3 separate regions of the Homo sapiens genome follow, and all the other regions are linked to region 2. Evidence: fine-mapped expression QTL. A gene starts in region 2. Each other region holds a variant in brackets. All regions are shown on one strand. Distances are from middle to middle. Region 1 overlaps SGCD (sarcoglycan delta). Region 2 holds the start of SGCD (sarcoglycan delta). Region 3 has its middle 290 kb from the start of SGCD.

Evidence for each region. PIP is the estimated chance that this variant, and not a neighbour inherited with it, causes the effect.
Region 1: its variant is fine-mapped to the expression of SGCD in adrenal gland (GTEx, PIP above 0.99).
Region 3: its variant is fine-mapped to the expression of SGCD in aorta (GTEx, PIP above 0.99).

What each region holds. Positions count from the first base shown.
Region 1 is chr5:156,478,636-156,486,635 of GRCh38, forward strand. All of the region lies in intron 3 of SGCD (sarcoglycan delta), which reads left to right. Among named protein-coding and RNA genes, the nearest start is that of SGCD, 160 kb to the left of the region's middle. The variant C/T (reference allele first, on the strand shown) is at 3,275.
Region 2 is chr5:156,322,756-156,330,995 of GRCh38, forward strand. It overlaps SGCD (sarcoglycan delta), which reads left to right and starts at 4,409. Exons shown (of 9, transcript NM_000337.6): 1 at 4,409-4,477; 2 at 6,779-6,824. The coding sequence starts at 6,822. The region is part of intron 2 of LOC124901120 (a long non-coding RNA gene); the gene reads right to left.
Region 3 is chr5:156,033,332-156,041,612 of GRCh38, forward strand. It overlaps a transcript of SGCD not described here. Among named protein-coding and RNA genes, the nearest start is that of SGCD, 290 kb to the right of the region's middle. The variant A/G (reference allele first, on the strand shown) is at 3,557.

The DNA.
Region 1 (8,000 bases), 160 kb after region 2:
AATGGTGCAATCTCAGCTCACTGCAACCTCCGCCTCATGGTTTCAAGCAATTCTCCTGCCTCAGCCTCCTGAGTGGCTGGGATTACAGGTGTGAGCCGCTACGCCTAGCTAATTTTTGTATTTTTAGTAGAGACGGGGTTTTGCCATGTTGGCCAGGTTGGTCTCGAACTCCCAACCTCAGATGATCCACTCACCTTGGCCTCCCAAAGTGCTGGGATTATAGGGCTGAGCCACTGTGCCCAGCTCAGTTGCCATTTTTAGAAGCCAAACCCTACTACCTCTTAGTCCTTTCTGGTAATTCAGCCAGCTCCTCTGATTGTCTTTCACCTGAGAGCCAAATCGGCCCACTCTCATGTTTTATTTGATCTTGTCAGTGTTGGGAGGGGATATATGTATACATACAAAAATTTAACATTAAGACACTTTTAGATTAAAAAATATAATTCAAGATTCTTTATTTATTTTTATTTTTTTCCTGAGACAGTCTGGCTATGTCACCTAGGCTGGAGTGCAGTGACATGATCTCGGCTCACTGCAACCTCCACCTCCCAGGTTCAAGCGATTCTCCTGCCTCAGCCTCCTGAGTAGCTGCGACTACAGGCACGCACCACCATGTCTGGCTAATTTTTTTTGTACTTTTAGTAGAGACGGGGTTTCAACATGTTGGCCAGGCTGGTCTTGAACTCCTGACCTCAAGTGATCCAGCCGCCTCGGCCTCCCAAAGTGCTGGGATTACAGGTGTGAGCCACCACACCTGGCCAGATTTCAAGATTCTTATCAAAGATATTTAACTGGAGCTGAGAAACTCTGCCCTGTCAGGGTCTGTTCTCTCTGAGTTTCCATGTGGGTGCCCACTTCAGTCATTAAGCTCATGGGCCCAACCTCTGTAGGCATTTGAGTTTGGGACCCCTGTCTTAGACTTTAAAGCACTAAGACCTAGGGAGTATTCACCCATTTTGCTCCTACCCCTGTGGCATCTTACCTATGCTCACAACTCCAAGAATCCCTGCATTTGTCCTTTTGTTCCAGTACAATGAAGAGTAGAAGAAAGAAGATACAAATGCACTTAGGAAACAGGCCTGGCTTTCCTAAAAGTCTTGGAGTGATTTCTTTCCTCTTCTTTCTTTCTTTAATTTTGTTCTTAGAGAGGAGGTAGAAGGCATTGTTGACACAAATCACCCATTCACAGGTTACTGACTGATACAGCGAGTTTCAGAATCTGCTCTCTTGGTTCTTCCAACACTTTCCATAAAGAAGTTACCCGCTTTGACCTGAATATATGCAGTTGCTACAATTTCAAACCAAAGCAGACACCAACAGCTGCTGTCTTGCCCTGGGAGGAGCCCCTGTGGGTGGAAGATCAGCCCTCCAGCTGTCTTGGCTTACATTTCTTCACCATCTGACTGGGATGGCTGATGCAACAGCAAGGCAAGTTGCTGTCACAAACACTCTGAGTAGTCAGTAGGGAAATGTGCCAGTGAGCATGTTCCCTTGGTCTTGAGGGTTGTCTGACTGTCATTTCTCTGAACTTACCTGTATGAGTATGTTCAACTCTACCTAACAGCTCTGCCTTGATTAGACAGACTGTAATGGACTGGTAAGTAATGGAAGAGTTCAGAGGAAGTGATGCTTTGATTGGAGTTTTGATTCCATTCATCTGAAGTTCCCTCAGTTGTATTGCTCTGTTTCGTTGGATTCTTCTCAAATGCTTTCACTCATGATAGCAAAATGGCAGCAGCTGCTCCAGGCATTACATTGGCATACCACATATCTACAGTATGATAGAGCTTGTCTTTCCCCAGTCTCTTCTTGAATAAAAACCCTGGGCTTCACTCTAATTAAACCAACTTATTTCACATGCCCAACCTGAACCAGCCACTGTGCAAAGGAAATCAGATGACCTTGATGGCTTTTAGCTGGGATCTTTCCTTGACACTGGTGGTAGAGTCATACTGCATGGCTGCTACCCCAGATGGCACATGGGCCGTTATAGTAAGTGTTCTAATAACTTCTTTAGCTAACTAGATTTGTGGGGGAATGAATTAATGTTTTTCTGAAACCCTGCTCTCTTCTGGAGATAATGCTGGGTGCTTTACCTACTTTGCAATTGCCACTACTGAAAATCAATTGTTCTTTTTTAATTTCTCTAGAAAACTCTAAAAGCTAAATCTTAGGTGATTAAGGAACGTGCTCAATGGGTCTTAAGATGTCCATTAGGCATTAACACTCTTATTGCCTTCAAAGGCCACAACTACAGAATACTATGTAAAAGGTCACAATATATCTGAGAATTTGGTGGGAGGAGTGCTATAAAGTAATGGAAAGATGATTCCAGGAGCGAGTTCCAACCCATCCACTAATCGTTTTACATTATCACAGTTTTGAACATATTTCTGAATTTCTCAGGGCATTGGTTTTTGTCATCTGACAAATCAAGAGCACAGTAATAGTATGACTCCATAATGTTGGGGTAAAGATTGGTATAATTAATACGGTATAAAAGCACAAAGAAGGTCCATAACAAAAGTAAGTATTATCTCACCTAGAATATTGGTATGCATTAAGCTAGGGCCACAAACTCAAAAACCTACAAGGACTGGCTAGTGACAAGTAGATAAAAAGGCCCTGGGGAAAGTTGGGGGATGGTAGAGGTCTATGTTATTGGGGAAGGCTGGGAGATGGTAGGGGTCTGTGTCATTGATATTTTGGACTTGATGTCCCTGACCCTGTGGAAAGGTGAGTGGCTGCTCAGCCAGTTGTAATAATGTGTGAATTTGGGCCTTCTTGCTAAATCTTATGACTTTTCAAGAGAAACTCATAATCTAAGTGTCTTAGTTTTTGCTTTCCTTTATTTTTTATTGAATACACTTTGTGGATCCAAAAAAACTACATCTGCCAGCCCAAAATAGCCCGTGGGTGCCTAATTTGAAACATCTGTTATTATATGTCTCTTGATCTACATGACCCTGGGGTTTTCTTATCTGCATCTATCAGAAGAGGGAGATAATAATAGTACCTGCCCCCACAGGATTTTAGGGAAGAAGAAGAAATGTTTCTACTGTGAGTTTCAGATCCCTTACTAGGGTGAGTTATGAAAGGAGACTAACAGAAGCCTGTTTCATGGAAACATCTGAGGTCAAGGAGCACACCTGGACACAGAACCCAGGATCAGGGTCGGAACCCAGGGCCAAGGATTTGCTTTCTCTACTCCCTGTGGCCTCTGTGAGCAAGTCTTTGAAGAGGTGCCAGCTTCCTTTTGCATCATTAATCCTGA[C/T]TGATCAGACACCACCTGCTTATGCCACGTTCAGGGACAACTGTAGACAGTGACTCAGGAATCAGCGGGACCCACAGACCAGGCAGTCTGGTCCCAGTCCCCTCAAACAGAAACTTGCTCCTTTCCCACATCTGTGCCTGGGTGTCACAGTCCGAATGTCAGGTATTTAATGAGATGTTGAGGAAAGCAAAGCAGTTGCTGAGACTGAAATATCAGCATTTGAGCCAAGGCGGAACCCAAGGGATTAGGTGTTGGATTCTAGTGCTATGGGGTAAAGCAAGTTTTGCAAGGTCATTGCAGCCTGAAAGATCACTATGATTTCAGTTCGTGCTGGAAGTTTTCAAAAATTGAAATCCTGAAAAAAAAAAACTGCTAACATATAGAAGATGCTTAAATCTCCACTGTCCGATATGGTAGCCACCAGCCACACACAGGAACACTCAGCTCATTATCTATTATATAGGAAGGGTAATATTGTTTCACTTTGTTGTTAGTGTTTTACACATATTAGCATTCCATAATAATCATTGAATCAATGAATGAAATAACTATAACTTCGTTTTTTTCTCCTTGAAGAAAGGGTCATATGTTTCTTCTGCCATTTTTTTAAATCTCAAAAATAGGGACAGTAATGGTTGCTAACTAGGCTTTGATAGATAAGAAGCTCTATGTTCTCTTTAGAAAAATGATCCTCTTTAAAGTCAAAGTATCATAATTCCATTGTAAATGAGTAAGATGATAAATGCCTTTTAAGCCTACTTGTATGATCTGAAGAAGTATCAAGAGCTAAAAAGAAAAATAACATTTATAAAACACTTTTCAAGACACTTATGTGAACATTATCAATTTCTATCCTCCCTACAAGATAATGAGTTAGAGCAGGTAGTATTATCCTTTTGGTCAGTTTTTTTTTTTTTTTTTTTTTTTTTAAGTAAGCTGAGACTAGCCATATTTGAATTGTTTAGGGTGGGGTTTCTCAACCATGGGACTTTTGACATTTTGGACTGGAGAATTCTTTGTTGCACAGGACAGTCCTGTGTATCATAGTATATTCAGCAGCAACCTCAGCCTCTAGCCACCAGATGCTGTTTGTTCCCCCACTCCCCCTTGTGACAACTAAAAATGTTTCCAGACATTCTTGCCTCATCTAGGCCTCATGAATGGTATTTGAGCAAAGACCTGAGTTAAGTGAAGGAGCCAGCTGTGCAGAGAGCCTGGAGAAGAGCCTTCTGGGCAGAGGGAGTAGCAGATACAAAGGTTCTGAGGCTGGATCCATTTAGTGTGTTCAGAGGACCAGTAAGAAGGTCAATGTGGCTGAGGTGGAGTTGTATTCTTCTCACTTTGCCTCCTAGCCCCCATGATCAAGCACTTGCCTTAGATGAAATCTTTCCTTTGCTTAGGTGCATGTTCAATATTTAACAGGTGTCAGACTGAGACATTTTTAGAAGGCAAAGAATCTCAGATGTCTGACTGTGAGGGAGAAGGGAGTCACCCCAAGGTTGAGGGGAGAGAATTGATACAAATTGCAGCTGACACAGTACACAGGGGCATACTTGCAGTCAATGCTTACTGACTTCTGCTACACACCCACGTTCATGTTACCTCATTTTTGCATTTGTGCATCGATAACCAAACAGAAGGCGAGGCCTGGGCATTTGGCAACTTCATTTGTATGTGGAGTCAACCATGGGGTGCATTCGGATTATTTCTTTTCTTCTGCATTTCTTAATCTCTCTCTTGAGAGCAGTCACCTTGGTAACTACCCTGGTGCCTTGCACATGGACTATGGTGAGTAAAATGTGTTTTTATGACCCTCAAAATAAGAGCCAAATACTACTTTATCCATTAAAAATGAGATTCACTTCTCTATGTGGCATTGTGGCCAGGTTTTTAAAAAATACCTGGTTTGGGGGCATTCCCGCTAACATTCTTACCAACTTTGAGACAGTGCTCAGAGCAAGTGCACTGAGCTAAATCGAGATGAAAGAGGCAATAATCTGCTGCCTAGTAGAATGGCTTTTGCAGCCTGATGTTAAAGGTTTCAGGATTTGAAGGTTAATCTGCAGCAGCAGAAGGAAACTGTTAGTACTTCCGCTAGTCTGAAATTGACATCCCAGAAACCGGCCCTTTCTAATAAACAGAGAAACAAACTCCAGTGAATCCCACATGTCAAGCCTAGACCTAAGGGAAATTACTCTGTGGGCTTCTGTCTGAATCCACTAAAAAACTCATACTCCAGTCAACGACATTGTCATTAAAGAAAAGGGAAACGTGAAATAATCCTAGCCTCAGAAATCTCTACCATTAACAGAAGGCCTTCTTTTTCCTGAAAAGATAGAGTATGTGAAGGCCACATCTCTATTTTTAAAATAAAGCAAGAGAAGTAACATTTATGGAGCACACACAACATGCCATGTACTACACTAGGTGACTTGAATATGTTGTTAAATACTTTATAGAGGAGGAAACTGCAGATAAAAGTATCAAGTGACTTGCCCAAGGTCATGTAAGTAATAAAGAGCACAACCGGCATTTACGAATGGGTCTTCTCAGTGCTAAAGCTGCTACTGCAATACTCTGTAAAAGACATTTATAAATTCGAAGTTAAGGAAGAAAGTATTGAATTATTCCCTAAGCTAGTATCTTAATTATATAATTGCTTGTTAAACTGTACATTTTTTCAAGCTGTTCATATTCCCCTCTTATCCGGATACTCGGAAATGGCTTTTTTGTATTCCTGTACCTGGTCTCATTCTCACATATATATTAGTCATGGTTACAATATACAGTTTTTAAGACTTTCTCATTAGAAGATATGGTGTGATGAAAAAGGTGGCTGAAATGATGAAAGATGATTGAAGAGTTTTTCTCGGGTCCCCTTGGAATGAATAACACATGGCCATTTATGTCACAGTGTTTCCTTCTACCTGAGCCTGGTAATTTCCAGGGGTCATCTTGGTTAAATTAGTTTTTAATTCCAAAATATTGTTGCTGGAAATGTTCCCACTGGCCAATTCATATCTCCTGAATAATAGGATTTGAGCCAAAATTGAAAAGTGCCAGTAAAGTAAATGAGGAATATCTGCCATATAACCTTTGGAAACAAACTTTTTTTTTTTTCATAACGATTTTTACAAGTGTAAGAAGTTGTTACTGCAATGCATGTGTCTGACATTCCTAAGAAACAGAGGTACTCTTCAGGACATTCTCCAGCTAACTTGAGGTCTCCCTCACCAAACCTTTTAGACATGGACTGAGGGCTGTTTTATTCTATGCACTCATTTTGTGTATCTCTTTCTTCCACATTTTGAGTATAAGGGAGGCTTCCTGCTTGTTAATTTTTCTGACATACTCAAGTTGTACAGAATGTAGGAAAAAACTATTTCTTCCTTATACTCAAAGTATATAGAGAGAGCCATTAATAAAGGTGGAAAAAGGAAATGCTAGAGGGGCCTTCAAAATGGCTGTGTGGGCCATGCGTGGTGGCTCACACCTGTAATCCTAGCACTTTTGGAGGCCAAGGCAGGTGGATCACCTGAGATCAGGAGTTCAAGCCCAGCCTGGCCAACATGGTGAAACCTGTCTCTACTAAAAATACAAAAATTTAGCTGGGTGTGGTGGTACACGCCTGTAGTCCCAGCTACTGGGAAGGCCGAAGCTGGAGAGTAGCTTGAACTCAGGAGGTGGAGGCTGCAGTGATCACGCCATTGCACTCTAGCCTGGATGGCAGAGCAAGACTCCATCTCAAAAATAAAAAAAAAATCGCTGTGTGTGGAGATGCCCAGCATTTGCCTCCTCCACAAAAAATACAGGACAAAGCAACAGGTAGATAATCCCACACTGAAGGAGCGTCTTTGTGAGAACACTGAAACTCAGCAGGGAAGTGATATTGGAGCTCTGAGGCAGGGAAGGAGAGAGAAGTGAAGCAGCTAGTCCAGCTGAGATCAGTTCAGAGCCAGGAAAAACTCCCCAGTGCAGAGAAAAGGTGAGAGATCCCCAGCAGTTCATGTTCCCACCAGGGACTCCTGCAATCCTAGTTACAGAAGAGCTCCTCAGGTTTTGCAGGTCCTGAAACTAGTATAGAGAGATACCATGCAACAGCAGTGTTCCAGAGAGGGAGTCCACACTAGGTCCCACATCTCTCCAAAGACCCAAGCAACTGTAGCATGATGCCATTTTGAGATCCCAGCTCTCAGCAGACTATATCCTGCCCTGAGGCCCAAGAATCCCTGCATCTCCACATTCCTGGAGCCCCACTGCCATCCCTTCATGTCCACCCAGAAACCTGTGTGTCACAGTTTTCTGGGTGGACATGAGGAGCTAGTGGTGCATCTAGATCTTCAGAACTCTATCACACATGATGTCCCTACTCCTTGGGAAACAGGCAATGCAGGGTACGCCAGAAAGGCTGCCCCTGAGACAAAGGAGACTGAAGTGGGCACTTCCAAAAACATCAGAACTGACTGCCTGAAGCCAGTGCCACTGATAACAACCCTGCCTCCTGCAGTAGCAGAGCTGTTGTGCACCTGTACATGCCTTCAAGGGGTCTTGGGACTGGCCCTGCTGGATGTCCTTTTGAAACCTGAGGATCTCCTCTGCCTATCACCACCCCTGCTAGTGCCCATCTGTACTATCCATGAGCTAGAAGGTCACCCAGCCCCACCCACTGATGTCAATGCCTGCATACACTATTGCAGGCCTGAGGACAGCATCATCTCACCTGCCA
Region 2 (8,240 bases):
TAGAAGAATGAGGGAGTGGCAGCAGATGAGGCTAAAGAAGTGTGTGACAGACCAGTTGAGGGTTGCTGCTGTTCCCTTTTAGGCAATGGTCAGCCATTTAAAGATTTGAGGTCAAAGAGTTGTGCAATCAGATTTATGTTTTAAAAGATCCTGTAACTTAGTAATCTTAAGTCTGGCTCACATTGGAATCATCTGAGGGGATTAAAAAATACTGTTGCCTGGTGGCCATCTGATTCTAATAGAATCAAAACCTCTGGGGTGGGACCCTGGCTCTAGTCAGCTTAAAAGCTACCCCAGGTGATTCTAATATAAATCTAGGCCTGAACATCATCGACATAAATGTTGTGGGAGATGAGGTTAATACTAGCACCTGTCATAGAGTGGTCCAAGCTGACATGACTCACTATGACTCCAGGTTACTACCTCCAAACCTAATATGTTCATGGATTGCATCAATAGAAGTATAGCTTCTGAATGAGAGAAGGAGTTGTTCCTCCTCTCTTTGCGTTAGATCCAGTGTACCTGCAAAGTTTGTTCACTTCTCAGCACCACACTCAAGGAGGAAATTAAGGAAACTGAAATATTCCCAGGAAAAAAGCCAATCAGGTGACAAAGGGAATCTGAAACACGATGGAGAGAAATGGTCGAGTAGCTCCAGATATGTTTAATCTACAGTAAAAATATCCTTTGAAAAGGATAATGTAGGAATCTCAGTTTTCAAGTAAGTCAAAAGATGTTATTTATTCAATGGGTAAAAATGAGGGTCTACTATATACCCATCCTAGACATTGGAAAAATGGCAGAAAATGAAGTAGACAAAAATCCTTGCCCGCATGGAGCTTATATTCAAGTGAAGATTGAAGTTTTCTGGTTCATATGATCTTCAGTATCATAATTTTTAACCGACTTCTGTGATTAGCAACCATAGAATATGTGATAGGGAGACATATTTTAGTTGTAATTTTAGAACATTAAAAGTGGAAGTCTGTGAGAAGCAAAGAGGTCACCATGTATGGAAGGATTCCAGCAGGCACAGCCATTGCAGAGGGGATTCAGGAATCTAATGGTAAGAATAAAAAGGTGTAATAGGAAGGAGACTGATGAGGAGTCCTTTGCAAAAGTGAGAACCGAGTACAGTCCTATCGTATTAAATACTAGCAGTGCCTACATAGTTTGAGCATTTACTGTGTGCCATGCATTTCGCTAAGTGATTATCACACATTATTTCACGTAATCCTCATAACACTCATATAGGTGGAAAGAATAAAACTGTCAAATTATACTTTTTAAAAAGTTAAAAACATGACATATAAATATGAAAAGCAGATATGTCAGATATTTTACTTGACTCCTTAATTAGTGGGGGAATTGGTGTGATGGTAAGACTGGTTCCAAGAACATTTGAGGAGCTCATTATTTATAGGTTTGTTAACAAAGGGATGCTAGCAGAGACTACATTAGGTACAAGACTGGTAATGTCCTGGAGGGCAACAAATCATCACATTTGAGGTTATTTTCTCTACTGGAAAGAAATTATTTGCATCTTTATCAGATAAAAGTCTCCAAGTTAACATGTACCTGTAATAAATCTGGAAATGTTTTTCAATAGCAAACTATCTTCAACAAATGACATTCCCCTTAAATACTTCTTGAGAGGGCCTGTGAAACAATTCCCGCATATGATATTGAAAAAAAAAAGACTACCTTTTGGCTATATTTTTCAAGTTTTGCATAACATTTCTTAACATTAGAAGAATTAAGTATGTTTTCAGGATTTTCTAGCTAGCAGTTATAAAGCTGGGTCTCAAACTGAGATCTCTCCAGATGCCCACATTGAAATGAGCCACATAACAAGTCTTTGGGGAGACATGAGGGCAGGGTCTCGTGAATCATATCAGCATTGTTTGATTAGGGCTGAGTATCAGCTTGAGTTTTTTTTAAATTGATTACCAGAACATTCAAGATTAACTTCTTCAACTATTTAAAACTTCTTTTTTTTTTTCCCTGAAAAGAAGCAGGGCATAAAACGTGAATAATAAACAATAAGCGGTTCATTAGCAATTTGCTACCACTGGCTCTCAAAGACTGTGGAACCCCACGTAGAAGTCTGATTCTTTAGAATTTGCAGCAGCTATTTTCTCTGAAAGATTTCTTCCTCAACTTGTGGGATTTTATTTTGCTATTATTGTTAATTTAGGACGTTGCCATTTCCAAACATGAACATTGTAATTGTTAATAGTCTTCTATTTATAGAATGATAATTTTGAGCTCTTAAGGTATAAAGCCCAGTTCTCTGGAATGACACTTTGTTCAGCCTCATGTAACTGACTGCAGATTTGATCTCACTGTTTTTCTTTTCTGTGAGTTAATCTCAAGGAAAGACTTCAGTGTTATATTTAGGGAATAAATGGAAAGTAGCGGTATAGCTGGCTTAATGTTCCAATAAGGCTTCAGGACAGTTCTCCAAGTTTAAGGTGACAGGCCCCTATTACATAAAGTTAAAGCAGCAGAAAACTAGCCACTCAAATACTTTATTCTAGAACTCACACTAGATGGGAGAGTACAATTTGGCTTTTAGGTTAGAGAAAAGGTTTGCATTTTGCTCCATTAAAAAAAAAAGTAAACTGAAATGTATTTATAGGCAGTCATAAACACTTTACACAGATTATCTCACTGAATCCTTAACAATTCTACCAGTAGATTCTATTATGGTTCCCATTTCACAGATGAGGAAACAGATCGAGAGAGGTTAAGCAAGCTGACCAGGGTTTATAGTCAGTAAGATGCAGAGCTAAGATTAGACCCAGGCTATCTGATTAGAAGGCTAGATGATATCACCTTCCCAAATTATGCTGCAGTAGAGAAAGCAGATAGAAAAAGAGAGCACCAATCCCATTTCTAGCTTCAGCTCTGGTATTAACTGTCTTTAAAACCCTGGACAAGTCATCTCATTTGTCTGGGCCTCTACTTCCCTCTGTAAAATGAAGGGTGGAAACAATTTGGATTGGATGATCTCTGGGGTGTCTCCAACTCCAAAGATCTGATTCTGTAATTGCATCTTGACCTTAGATGTGCACACACACCTCCCCACACCGCCTCCCACCCCACTGCTTCCCAAGGCGAAAATCTAATCCTGCTCAAAGTGCCCAGTGTAATTTGATGCTAAACTCACGACCCCACCGAATCCTATTACTTACAACATCCCCTCAAGAACATACAACACTTAAAATCTGGCAAGCCAGTTCTTTAGAATAAGTTGCCAATGGGGTGTGATTTTTGGAAGTAAAATGTTAATACCAAAAACAGAAAAAAGAAACAGTTCAAAACAAATGCTCCTCTCTCTTTAAATCACCTCTTTTCTACAATGTTACCTTGACAACTTTGCTCTGGCTCTTTAGATATGGGGGTTTTTCAGTGTGGGAGAAGAGGGGTGTCCTCCTGTTTTGAGGTTTCCTCTTGTTGCATGGAAAGGGAAAATGTCAAAGGTAGAGCATCAAATCCAGCAGAATGTACACAGGGCATCTTGAGGGAGTGTCATCCAGAAATAATCACAGGTGCACAGAATTAGGACGCATTCTGATTCAAAGTACATTCTTTTCTCTTTTCTATTTTCCATAACCATAACACACATTCCAACAGCCTATAAAATGTTACATTTTTGGACCAGCACTGTTGCAGAACAGAGAGCAACAAAAGTGCCTGAAAAATAATTGCATTATTTTTAGTTGCTGCAGCAAAAAATGTACATATCAGGTTGAGGGGACAGCTCCGAAGAACTGTACCAGTGTGGAAATGCTAAAAATATTGCTCCCCCTCAAGCAATTGAAATTTTGAGCAAAGATTTAGGAAGCGGCAGGTAGGGAGATCAAATTAGAATTTACATCTCTCAGCTGTAATAAGCTTGTTATCAGGACTGGCAAGAGCTCAGGGGGCTGACAGGGGTCAGCTGGGGACTCAAGTGTAAGGAGCAAGTGAAAAAGGAGCAGTGTTGAGCAGAAGAAAGAGAGGACTTATCTCCAGCATCTAGCACTACAGAGCAGAGGCTGTGTGGAGAATGGCTGAAAAATCAGAATTGGTTGTAGAAGCAGTTTTCTTTCTGGTTGTGAGTATGAGCCCGGCAGACACCATGAGCGCTGTTGCAGGGGAGTCGGCCTGTGCTTGACACATGTGTTTCCCATTGATAGCTGGAGACAGCCCAGTAGCTGTGAGTCGGTCTGACAAAGCCATATTGAAGTACGGAGTACGGTTTCAAAGCAGTCAGAAAAAGAACGGGAATGCTGTTCAGGAAATTCTTCAGGCATGGGCAGGGACTTGGCTGCAGTTCTGCAGTTGGAAAATCTGACTGGGGCAGCTTCTGAGCGCAGGCTGGGCCTGCACACACTCAGCGGGCCGAGTGGCCACCTCCTTCAGAGCTGCTCAGCACGCCCTGGGATCGCGGGCGGTTTTCATCGGCCGGTTTGTGAAACGGACAAGAGAGGTAGGGTACTGTTCAGTTCTTGCGTTTGCACGCGTCTGTTCACTTTCTAAGCTATCTGCCTGCTGTATTTGCAGGCACTCCGAGTTTTTAGTGTGTGCATGTGTGTGTGTGTGAATTAGCAAGTTAGAACTCCGTCATGTAAACAGTTGGCATGGGGCTCCAATCTGTGCTTTTCCCCCTTTAAGGTCTGATTTTCAGCAGGGCAGAGAGACTTCTTTTGAAAGTTAGGATTTAGCTGGCAACGTTATTGTGTAAAGAGGAGTATGTGAATTCCTTATGTTGTCACCCTGCTCCAACCATCTGTAACTTTTCCTTTCTGCGTGGAAGGGCCGTTCACTGGCAAGGAAGATAATTTCAGATGAAACTGTCTGTGTGTTTTGCTTCACTTCGCAAGAGTTTTAATGGGGAGTTTTTTGTTGTTGTTGTTTTTTAATAGTAGAAAATGGCTCTCATTTTAGGAGGGAATCAGAGTTTGAAGTTTCTACGTTGGATGACACTTTCAGAGTGTCGAAACAGATATGTGTGTATGGGTTTCTAAAATCTTTTATATAGGAGTTTGACTGTCATTATCTGGGATTTGACTGTCAGTGATATATTTGCCTAGAATTATGCTGGATCAACATTTGTAATTCTGTTTCTATAATCATTTCCAATTTTCTCACTTGAAGTAATTTGCAGTTTTACTCTCAAAAAACACTTCTGTATTTTAGGAAACATAGATAATAAAAAAGTAACAGAAAATGGCAGTTTACTCAAAATTCTTCTTAAAGGACAGAGACATGATGGTGTGAATTTTATTTCATTGATCTCTTGGTTTTATTTTACACCTTACTGCAAAAGAGCTTTTTATAAAAATCAAAGTTTTAAAAATTTTCAGCACAACAGGGATCTTAGTGTTCCTCTTCAGTTTTGGTTCTTCTTTATCAACTCTATTGCAGTATAGATTTTTTCCTCTCATAGGAAAGCTATACCTTGTTTTATGTACAGCATTTAGAAAACACACAGTACAATGTCATTGCATTTGAGAGACTGGTTCAGCCCAAAGCCGAGCTAAACCTTACAACTGCTTTACAATTACTAGCACAGCAATCTGTGACAACATTGGTTTTTTCCGAACGGGGCTTGGCCAAAAGTCTGGTTGGGGAGATGGATGAATGAATGGAATCTTGGATACTTCTTGAGTAGCTGAAGAGTGACTAGACCTCTTAGGGTGGATCTCTGTGACAACAGGTGTGCATTTACTTGTGTCCTACAATCTTTAAACAAGTAGCTAATAGAAGAGCCTGAAGTTAATGCTGAAAGAAAAGTGGAGAGCCAGCATTTCTCATTGCTTCCTCTGCATAAGACCTAGAATGAGAAGGCACACATTCTGTCCTGTTGGTAGAAGGTCAGGATTTTCAGCCAGCGATTTTCTTTTTTCTTCCAAGTGTTGTACTTGGAGGAGGGACCTGGGACAGGACTGGCAGCAGGATATCTTTAAGAGATGGTTCATGAACATTTTCTTTATTAGTTTCATCTTCGTGTTGGGGTGGTGTGGGGAGGGTTTGGGGACTGCAGGGCTTGAGGAAAGGAAGGGGGTGTAGTTAGAAGTCAGGATGGACTGTGACCTTATTTTTTTCTCTAAAGTGCCTAATGAGTGAGAAAAATGCCAAGACAGATTAGGAACTGGCATGAACCGTAGTCAAGCCCACTGCCAATGAAAAAGGGAGCCTTCCATGAGCTCGGGTGTCATACTCCTCTATATTTAGCGTGCGTCAAGCATTGAGCAGAAGAGGCGTGAAATAGCAACTCCAGGTTGCAGGATTATAAAGAGCAGTGCTTGAAACTTGGTAGAAACTCTATAGTTTCTCTCTTTTTTAGAAGTAAAGTAGGGAGAAGTCAAGCTCTCTTGACATCTGAAGAGAAAAAGTAAGCAGCGGAAGGGGGAAGGATACAGAGGAAGAAATCCAGGACAGAGGTGGAGGCAGTGAAGGGAGAGGAATGGCCACAACACAAACTGGGCAGTGAGGGTGGAGGGAGGAGCCCTTGGCACAGGAATGAAACACATGTATTAGAAATAGCCAAAGCCACCAGGCACTGATTTGTTGGACTGGAGGTGTGCAGATACTCAGTGGCCTTGGTGAAGAGAATTGTTTTAGCCACTTCACCACAGGAGACTGCATGGTCAGCCTGCCCTGCCTTCTGGAAGTAATCAGAAAGCACATTTTGTAAGAATGGCATTGCCTGAGGGTTCAGATTTCCTAGGCAAGGAGGGGGCAGGCTCTTCAGACCTTATTTTTAACCCATATTTGTTCCTTGCAGAGACATTACTGCCGGGAGTGTTGAGTGAAGGGACCAGGTGGAGATGGTGAGTAATTCCCGGGAGCGAAGCTTGTTCAAGGCCCTGCTCATGGTCATTTTATTATTAACATAAACTTTTGAAAAAGAGAACAAAGTGTTATATATGCCTTATCCTGATGAAGACATTTCTTTAATTTTACTTTTTTATTTTAAAAAATCTGCAGGCCAGGCACGGTGGCTCACGCCTGTAATCCCAGCACTTTGGGAGGCCGAGGCAGGTGGATCACGAGGTCAGGAGATGGAGACCATCCTGGCTAACACGGTGAAATCCCATCTATACTAAAAATACCAAAAATTAGCCGGACATGGTGGTGGGCGCCCGTAGTCCCAGCTACTCGGGAGGCTGATGCAGGAGAATGGCGTGAACCCGGAAGGTGGAGCTTGCAGTGAGCCAAGATGGCGCCACTGCACTCCAGCCTGGGCGACAGAGCAAGATTCAGTCTCAAAAAAAAAAAAAAAAAAAAAAAATCTCCAAGGGCACATACTACATCGTTGGTTGTACATGTGTTGAGCTTCCCAAATCCAAAAATCTGAACTCTGAAATGTTTCAAAATTTGAAACTTTTTGAGCACTGACATGATGCTCAAAGGAATTATTTATTGGAACGTTTCTGATTTCGGATTTTCAGATTTGGAATGCTGAATGGTAAGTATAATGCAAATATTCCAAAAATCCAAAAAAATCTGAAGTCAGAAACACTTCTGGTTTCAAGCATCTTGGATAGTTTCCTAAGCCACGTCTGACGAACGTGCTGGTACTGGGGGCAGAAGTGGGGTTGAGAGAGGGAGGAAAGGTAGAGGTGGTCAGAAATCTTAGGTCAGGTCCTGGCTCCATTCATCTTCAGATCTCAGGTTTCCTATCTGTAAGATGATCTGATACCTCTGAATTGTTTTCTGTTTTCACAACCTATGATTTTTGTAATCCTGAGGCTCTTCCTTTTCTTTAAGAATAACTCTTAGTCTGTCTCCCTTAAGGCTGGGTGTCTTGAGTCATTTCACCCATTTCTCCATCTTTTCCTGCACTCTTTCTTTACTCTTCTTTGAACATATTTCAGTGAGCCTTCTCCTGACAAAAACTATGGCTCCTTGAGCTCAACTTAGTCATCTGAACAATGCACATTCCATGGTGAGGACTTCATACATGTGTTAACCGAAAAGGAAGAGGGTGATTGTAGGGAGAGGAAGCACAGCAAGAAAGAAAAAAATGGAAGGTGGTATCATCTTGCTGTGGAAGAAAAGTGGTTATATTGTGAACTGAGCTCAGGGTCTGCCTCAAACGAAGACTGGGGTCCTGGCTGTGTGGCCATAGGCAAGTTACATCATCTCCAAAATGTGTCCCAATTTCCTAATCTCTAAAATGGACAAGACAAAAGTATCTGCCTAATAGTGTGTTGTGAGATTGTACAGATAATGCACTTAGCATT
Region 3 (8,281 bases), 290 kb before region 2:
CACCCAAATAGTGAACACTATACTTAATAGGTAATTTTTTAACCCTCACCCTCCTCCCACCCTCTCTCCTTTTGGCGTCCCCAGTGTCTATTGTTTCCTTCTATATGTCCGTGTGTACCCACTGTTTTGTCCCCACTTGTAAGTGAGAACATGCAGTATTTGACTTTCTGTTTCTGAGTTATCTCACTGAGGGTAAGTGAAATAAGAATCCATGGATGAATTCTTAACCTGAAGTGTAGACCTTGAATTTGAATTTGTTGGAAGTAATAAAAGTCATCCAGTTAAACTCTCCTCTTTAATGGAGGTGAAAGCCAAGGCCCAGGGAGGTAAAGTAGCTTTCTCACATTTGCAAATTAGAAACTAAGACTATTGTTTGCGCCCTCAACCATTCAACAAATATTAGGGAGGGCATACTATGTGCAATGAATGTCCTTTTCTGTGTGCAGGGAATACAGCAGTGACCAAAATAGACCAAAGACCCTGCCATCATTGGAGTGAGCATATGATGGGGGTTACTCTGAACCTCTTTTTACTGGCTCACATTGCCCATTTTTGCACTTAATTTTTTATATCAAAGATGCCAGCCAAATCAAACTGTTCAATGCAAGACACAATCTTTTCCTCACCAACTTTCTACCAAGGGAAAACTGTGTCTTGCTAACCAAAATGAACTGCTGTAATACCCTCCAGGGATATTTTTCATCCACTGCCCAGAGGTATTTAGGTATGCCCTGCCAATTTTTAATAGTCCCTCTCTCCTACCCCACTCCTCACACTTGAAGAAACACTTTTTGTCTCCTGCAAAAGACTCCAGTCAAGCAGAAAAATGCTTTCTTTCGTTTTCACATGAGCCACCCACAGCTGAAAGATATGCAGGTGTTTCCAGCAGTGATGGAGCTGCATTTAGGATCCAGATCCAAGGGATTTGCTCTGAATTCTGTCTTTCCTTGTTCTGATGAACCTTCCTCCACCAAACCTTTTGAAAACATTTCATTAATTAGTGCGAGTCTAGATTTGGACTCTGAAGTATAAAGTACCAGAAGATATATTATCATCATTACATGAAATCAGGTCATGTAATTAGGTGCCAGAACAATGAAGCTTCAAAGCTTTCCTTTCCCACATATGAATGTGGCCATTTAGCTTTCCTAAACCTTGTTATCTTCATCTGTAAAAGAGGGCTAACCATCCGTAGTTCATATAACTCTGTACTTCTTTGTAATAGCACTTACTATAATCAATTGTGTCTTGTGTGATTTTGCTAAGTGACCAGTTATTCTCCTTCCCCCAGTACTGAGAAAGTTATTCTCAGGATGTGAAATTTCCAGTATAAAAACCAGGAAAGTTCAAGGCAAGTCAGAATCAGTTGGTCATGTGAAATTATGCAATAAACATTAAGAAACTGTTCAAGATGTGTCTCACCCACTAGATTTCATCCTTCATGCAAGCAGGAACTATGTTTGTCTTGCTGTAAGTACAGTGCCTCATGCATAGTAAGCACTTAGTCAATATTTGTTGGATAAATGTGTCATAGGATCCAATGAAAACTACTTTAGTTAAAATGTGTAGTTCAGAGCTTAGCATATTGTAAGTGCTTAATAAATGTAAGCAAGTTTTGTTATTTTCTTTTTGTGAACACCTTCTAATATCATACTTTTTGGCAATTTTTATAATACATAAATACCTTCTACATGTTTCCAGTGTAAGTTTCATAAGGCAATTAGTGAGACATAATGGATACCATTAGATAACCATTCTGTTATTTCAGGAATCAAGGCTCTTCAAAGGAATTTAATCCTAAGGTGTTTCTTAAAGTTTTCCTCGGTGAGTCTGTTTGTTTTTCTACTTTGAAATGCTAATATTATTCCCTTTTGTCTTGTGCATTTTAAAGTTTGGGATTGAATTCTACCATCTACTCGTGCAACTTTAACCTGCTGCCAAAGCCTTAACAGAGTGGTTAAAACAGTAATTTTGTCTGCCTGAAAAGTGGAATAGGGCCAGTCATGGTGGCTCATGCCTTTAACCAGCACTTTGGAGGCTGTGGCGGGAGGATCACTTGAGGCCAAGTGTTCAATACTAGCATGGGCAACGTAGCGAAACCCTGTCTCTACAAAAGAAAAATAAAAACATTAGCCAGGTATGGTGGCACATGCCTATATTTGCAGTTACTCAGGAGGCTAAGGTGGGAGAATCACTTGAACATAGATGTTTGAGGCTACAGTGAGCCATGATTGTGCCACTGAACTCCAGCTTGGAGTTCAATAGAGGGAGACCCTGTCTCAAAAAAATAAAAAATAATAATAAAAACAAGAGTAGAATGGGGTGGCTATTTAGGTGGTTCTCTAATGGCAGAGGAGAAATGTAATTTGCCTTTCTATAATCCAATAAAATGGATTGTAAAGTGACTACTTCCTGTTAACTTCCATTAGACGTGTTTCTGTGAATTATATTTAACCCATCTTCATTCTTGGAATAAGATCAGAGAAGGAACACAAAGTGATAATCTTGAAGCGTAGCATTTTGGTGAGCAAAGTATCAAAATGGTGTTTAGGAATAGTGATACCATCACAAGAAAAATTGCAGAACTGTTATAACTCTAAGAAATATTTTTTAATAGGGAAGCTGTTAGTTATATCACAGCTTTATAGTTATATACATGCTGGACACAAGAATGTGCTTTCACCTATATTATCTCATCTAAATCCTTTAAAGGCTTTTGTGATGAGGTTTCATGATCTCAGATAGACCAGGGCTTAGGGAAGCTAAATAAGCTGTTATAATTTACAGAGCTAGCTAATCACAGAATTGAGATTGTCACTAAATAAAACTTGAGTCTGCTTGCCTGGTGGGCTGAAAAAGCCAACACTGTCACCAAAATTTGCAGTGAGAGGTCATAGAGACTTGTACAGCAGGTGCCAAGCAAGGAGAATCAGGTGGCTAACACTTAAGATCCAAACTCCTCAGTGGCTTACAAGCAGAGTTTTTAAAGGCAGGGGTACATTTCAGGAAAGCAGAAGTTTCAGGCAAAATCATCAGCAGAAAGAAATGTTCAGGTCTGTCCTGTAAGCATGACTCTATCCAGGCTCCTCAGGAAGAAATTTAAAGCAAAGAATGACAGTCAGATCTCAGTCCTCATTTTCCCCTTATCTAAGGTCTATGGGAAAGCACTAGGCATTTTCCATCTGATGAGGGCCGAGGTTTCTGAAAGACAACTCAGAGACATACGTTAAGATGCTACCTTTGGTTTCTTTAGAGAACAAAACATCTTGAGACTCTAACTTACTTGGGTTACTGTTATTTAAGCTTTTTTTACTTTCTTGCTTCATGGGTTATTTATTCCCTTCCTCAATTGCTGGTAACAGGGCTAGCTAGGTGCCTGGAATTTCCCTTGGAGAGACTCAAATTTTCCTTTATTTCCATACTTGGTGGGGCCTGGTAGGTTCCTAAGAGTGGCTCATACTCTGTGTTAAGATTTGGAACCAAATATGCTTCACCCCAGAGCACATGTTTCTCCTTCTATGTCATGCTGCAGTTATTTGTTTAATAAATATAGACC[A/G]AGCTTTTTCCTGCCAAGCTCTTTGCCAAGCACTAGTGATTCAGGGTAGAGCAAAACAGACATGCAGAACCTCTCCTCATGCCACTTACAGTTTACTGGAGAGCTGGAAATTGATCAGATTGTGTCTCAGTGTCCCCATGGTTTTGTTTTGAAGACTGAATGAGAGTTGTAGTGCTTGGCACACATAAAGAGTGCTCAGTAATTTTTAGGTGACATTATTTTTATTCAATTACAACACAGACATGTAATTACAAATTTTATTACTTGCTATGATGGAAAAACATGTGGAATTGTAAAAGTAGATGACGGAGGACCAGATCTATTCTGGGAGGTGGGTGAAAGCTTCCCTGAGAGAGGCAAAAGAAGCTGGGGACAAGGAGCCATCTGAGCAGCAGGAGTGGCATGTGCAAAGGCCCTGAGGCAGAAGGGAACACTGTGTGTTCAAGGCAGTGACAGCAAGTGTGATGGAGCTGATAAAACAGTGCAGCTGCAGTCATTTTCTCCTCAATGTTTTCCCCAGTCCCAGGCATTTCTTCACATCTTTGCATTCCCCTGATGGCACCTGCACAGTTCTCAGGTCCTAATTCCCTAAACTCTGTAAGCAGGCAATTTGGCCTGTCAAATTGACCTAAAATGAAAGTTACCTACACAAACTTATTTAGGACACATAAAACATCTTGCATCTGTTGTGTTCCATCTTTAAAGATTCCACTCATAGATTAGGTAGCTTGTTGATGGCTGTGATTTAAATTCAGGAAGATGGCTCTGTCTACAAGATAAAAGATAATTGGGAATGAGTCATTGTCTTTTTAAAGAACAAACAGTGAGGTCTGGAAAATTTGCAGACACAGGTCTTGCACGTGTTAATTCCCTGCCAATGTAGACAGACTAGGCTATCTAGAAAGAAATTCCCTGGGGTTATTAAAGACCAAAAGTAATCATGCTAAAAAAGCTCTTTGAAGAAACATAATACTTATCATGTCAATATAATATATTGCATCTGTAGTAGCTACAGGGTGCAGGGAGAAGGCAAAAATGCAGGCAATGAATAGAACAAATAAAGTTTGAGGAGAGTCAAAGGTTAATGAGCCCCCTAAAAAGAAAACTAGATAGTACACAAGCCTTCCCGTAACTGTCCTATCTTAAACTTCTTTCATATCTGATATGTGGATTATTCTGGATCTGGTAGAGTGAAGATGGGGATAGAGACCAGGGAAATTACCTTTCTTATAACACCCAGAGCTGTTAGAGAACTTCAAATCATTAGGCCAATGAGAAGGCATCCTTCCCTGAAATTCATATCCTCAGCCAATCATGAGAAAGCATTAGATAGATCCTAAGGCAGGGAGACATTCTACAAAATACCTCACCAGTACTTTTCAAAAGTATCAAGGTCATGAAAGACAGGGAAAGATGAAGAGACTGTCATAGATTGAGGGAGACTAAGGAGACCTGACAACTAATTGCAATGGGATAGCATAAAGTAGGTCCTGGAACAGAAAAAAAATCAATGACATCTGAAAAAAAGTCTATAATGTAGTGAATAGTATTATGCCAATGTTAATTTCTCATCTTTCATGAATGCACCATGGCTATATAAGATGTTGATCTTAGGGAAAATTATTAGGATGTGATACATACAGGAACTCTGTACTGTATTTGCAACTTTCCTGCAAATCTAAAATTATTTCAAAATAAAAAGTAAAAAAAAAAATGGCTCCCACACACACACACACAAAATGACCAAAGCTTTCTCTTTACGAGTCAAGAAAGCAAAATTTACAGAGGCAACATGGCTACATAAAGCCTTACTTTGTTCCTTACTTTGTTAGATGGGGAATATGGGGATAAACAGCCTTTCTTCCTTGGGGATCTTTGCACTGTGTTTCTAGAAAAGGCGCAGAAGAACCTACAAAGGGCTCTTTCTCCCATACCACACATTGAGGCTGTTTTAATTTTTTTCCTGTCTAACATTGTTTTTACAAATATGCAAAGTGGTATATATTAGGTAAAAGGCAAAATCCTTAGCAGGGCCTACAAAACCCTGCTCAGTTTGGCCTCTGACCATGTCACCAGGGCCACCTGCTTGCTCGCTCTTCAATTCAGACATCCTCATCTTCCCCCTAGAAACAGAAATAGCCCTTTCCTGCCTCAGGAGCTTTTTATCAAGGTAGCATCCCAGTCCCCATATACGTAAAGACATTTGGGTTCTATCCTAAGTCAACTTCCTTTAAGAAGCCCTCCTTTATGGCCCACTCCACCACCTAGCCCTAAGAACCAATAAGACCATTTAGTTTTTGCTCCTGTCATACCCTATGCCTCTCTAGTGAATCAGCCAGCACACTTAGTTCTGCATGTTCATTTTTTACCTTCTACAGCATACTATTAATATATGCATTTCTAACTGACAATATTGATTTTCAATTTTTAAAGAAAATTTCAAATGCTGTTTGCTATTTTTATCTCTGTATGCCCCCACCCAGACCCCTCAGCATCCTGAATCAAAATTAAAGGCAACATCCTCCATTGACAAGGAAAGGAGCAAGCTCCTTGGGAGGTTTTGTTTTTGCATGATGGTATCTAAGCATGTGCTCTTTCTCACAAATTTATGGCTGGATTGCTAGGGTCTAATAAAGTACAGGCACATGGTAGATATTTAAACTATCTGTTGAATAAAATAATAAACTGAAAACTAGACAATTGAAACATTTGTCTGAACATCAACTGAGCAGTTAAGGAAAAGCAACACTTGGAAATCTAACTTACCTAGACTTAAAGAATTGTATGTTTTCTCATTTCTCATTTCAGCTTTTATACCTTGCAGGGTATCCAATGAAGCTCCTTTTACTACGGAGAGAGTAGTTTCCTTTTTCTGTTTCAGCATCGTGAAAGAGAAAGAGAAGTAACATATCGTGGGAGATGTATTTGCAGAAAAGCTTCAGTTGGCTCTTGTCATGACTCCTATATAAAAGAAAAAAAATCCTCTAAACTGCTCTAGAAATGAAAGAGATTGATGTGCAGTCTCTTCAAATTCTTCTGAATGGTGCACTGTGAAGATAAGTTACAGTGAGTGTCAGGCCATTTGTAGGAGCAGCAGGTTCCACACAAGGAGTTTTATGTGGGAGAGAGTAGCTAAAAGTGGAGCTCCAAGACAATGGAGATTAGCAAAGAGCTGTCATCCAGCTTCTGACATAGGTTTATACTGACCAATGGCAAAAGCATGAAGTGATACAGAGGTAAGCGCTGTATAAATATAATCATTATCGTCATCACCATCATCATTGGTGCTTCACCCCTTGCATATTCCTTTTACATTAAGCAGACCATTTGCTAGATAATTTTATGGGAATTGTATGTAGCACTACTGTGCTACAGCCAGAGAAGGATTTACTGATGAAGCTTAAGCCTTGGCGTCTCCGACAAGCGGGAGCCCCTTTCAAGAATGTCCACTATATTTTGTGTTTATAATTTTATATTCTCTTTCTTAAAGAGCATCCCACAAATTGTGTAAGCTTCTAGCCCCACAAAATGTGGATCTGTCCCTGATTATAATTATCCAGTAGAGGAACTCAAAAATACCATTGTGGAGTACACAACAAGCCAGATGACACGTGTTTTTATGCTTTAGGGCAGCCAGCACTACTAGCACACTGCATACCAAGTAGAAACTGATTAGATCCTTGTTGAATTAAAATCGGTGAGTGTGAAAAGCCACCACTTTCCACTCTTCTGCATTTGCTGTCAGAGCAAATGAATTCATAGGCCTAGGTGGTGTGGTGTAGTGTGCAGGATCTCTCATCCAGCTGTTGGTGACCCTCCCATGAGTGTGGGCAGATGCATGCCTTCATTTCCACTTAGATAACATTTTTCATTATCTCTTATAATGGGGCATCTAATATTAAGTCTTACATCAGATTATTTTAGGGCTTTGAAAATCCTCTACTGAATCTAGTGCCATCCTGATGGAGCTTGGCCCAGTGATGTGTAAGCCTCTAATTTAGGAATGTACTGGCTGAAGGCCCATTTTGATTTTATAGTAGCCTATTAATAAAACATCATCAGATTTAGAATCTCAATTCAAAAAAAGTAAACTTCTTGGGATTTTTCTGTTATTGTTCTGAGGCATAAACTGTGATGTTCTGTGTTTCCTTCTGAAGTAGATTTGAAATAGTGTTTTTTTCCAGTATCCTTCCCAGCATCAGCTCAATGTCAGGACTTATAAAAGCATAATCAGATGTGTATCTGGAGGCACATCATACCCTTTTTCCCTCTGTAAGTTATAAACCAATTGAAAAGTCAACACAGGCCTCACAGATAAGCTGAGCTAATAAAGATGGCCTAGGCCAACAGCACCTCTGAATCAGGTTGACTTATCCACAGTCTAGCGTGCTGAGCCCCAGAATGGGTTGATTGCCTTGTACTTCGGTCCAGTTCCTTCCTTACTGGGAAGATTATCCCATTCTCCTCATTTGCGCATGGAAGAATGAGGAAGGATAGGAGCACAGGTAGAAATTTTTTTCCGATACTTCCGAAAGGCAGACACTGTTATTTAGTAGGGAAGGGTAGAAATATCAGAAGAGAGATGGTGGAGAGGAGGGCCTGAAGGAAGAATGTTCTGCCTAAAGTAGAGATCGAGTTTTTTAATTGATTTTCAACAGGATTGAAGTTATTCATTTATCATTCATCCATCAACCATTTATTGAGTACCTATTATGTAAAGAACTC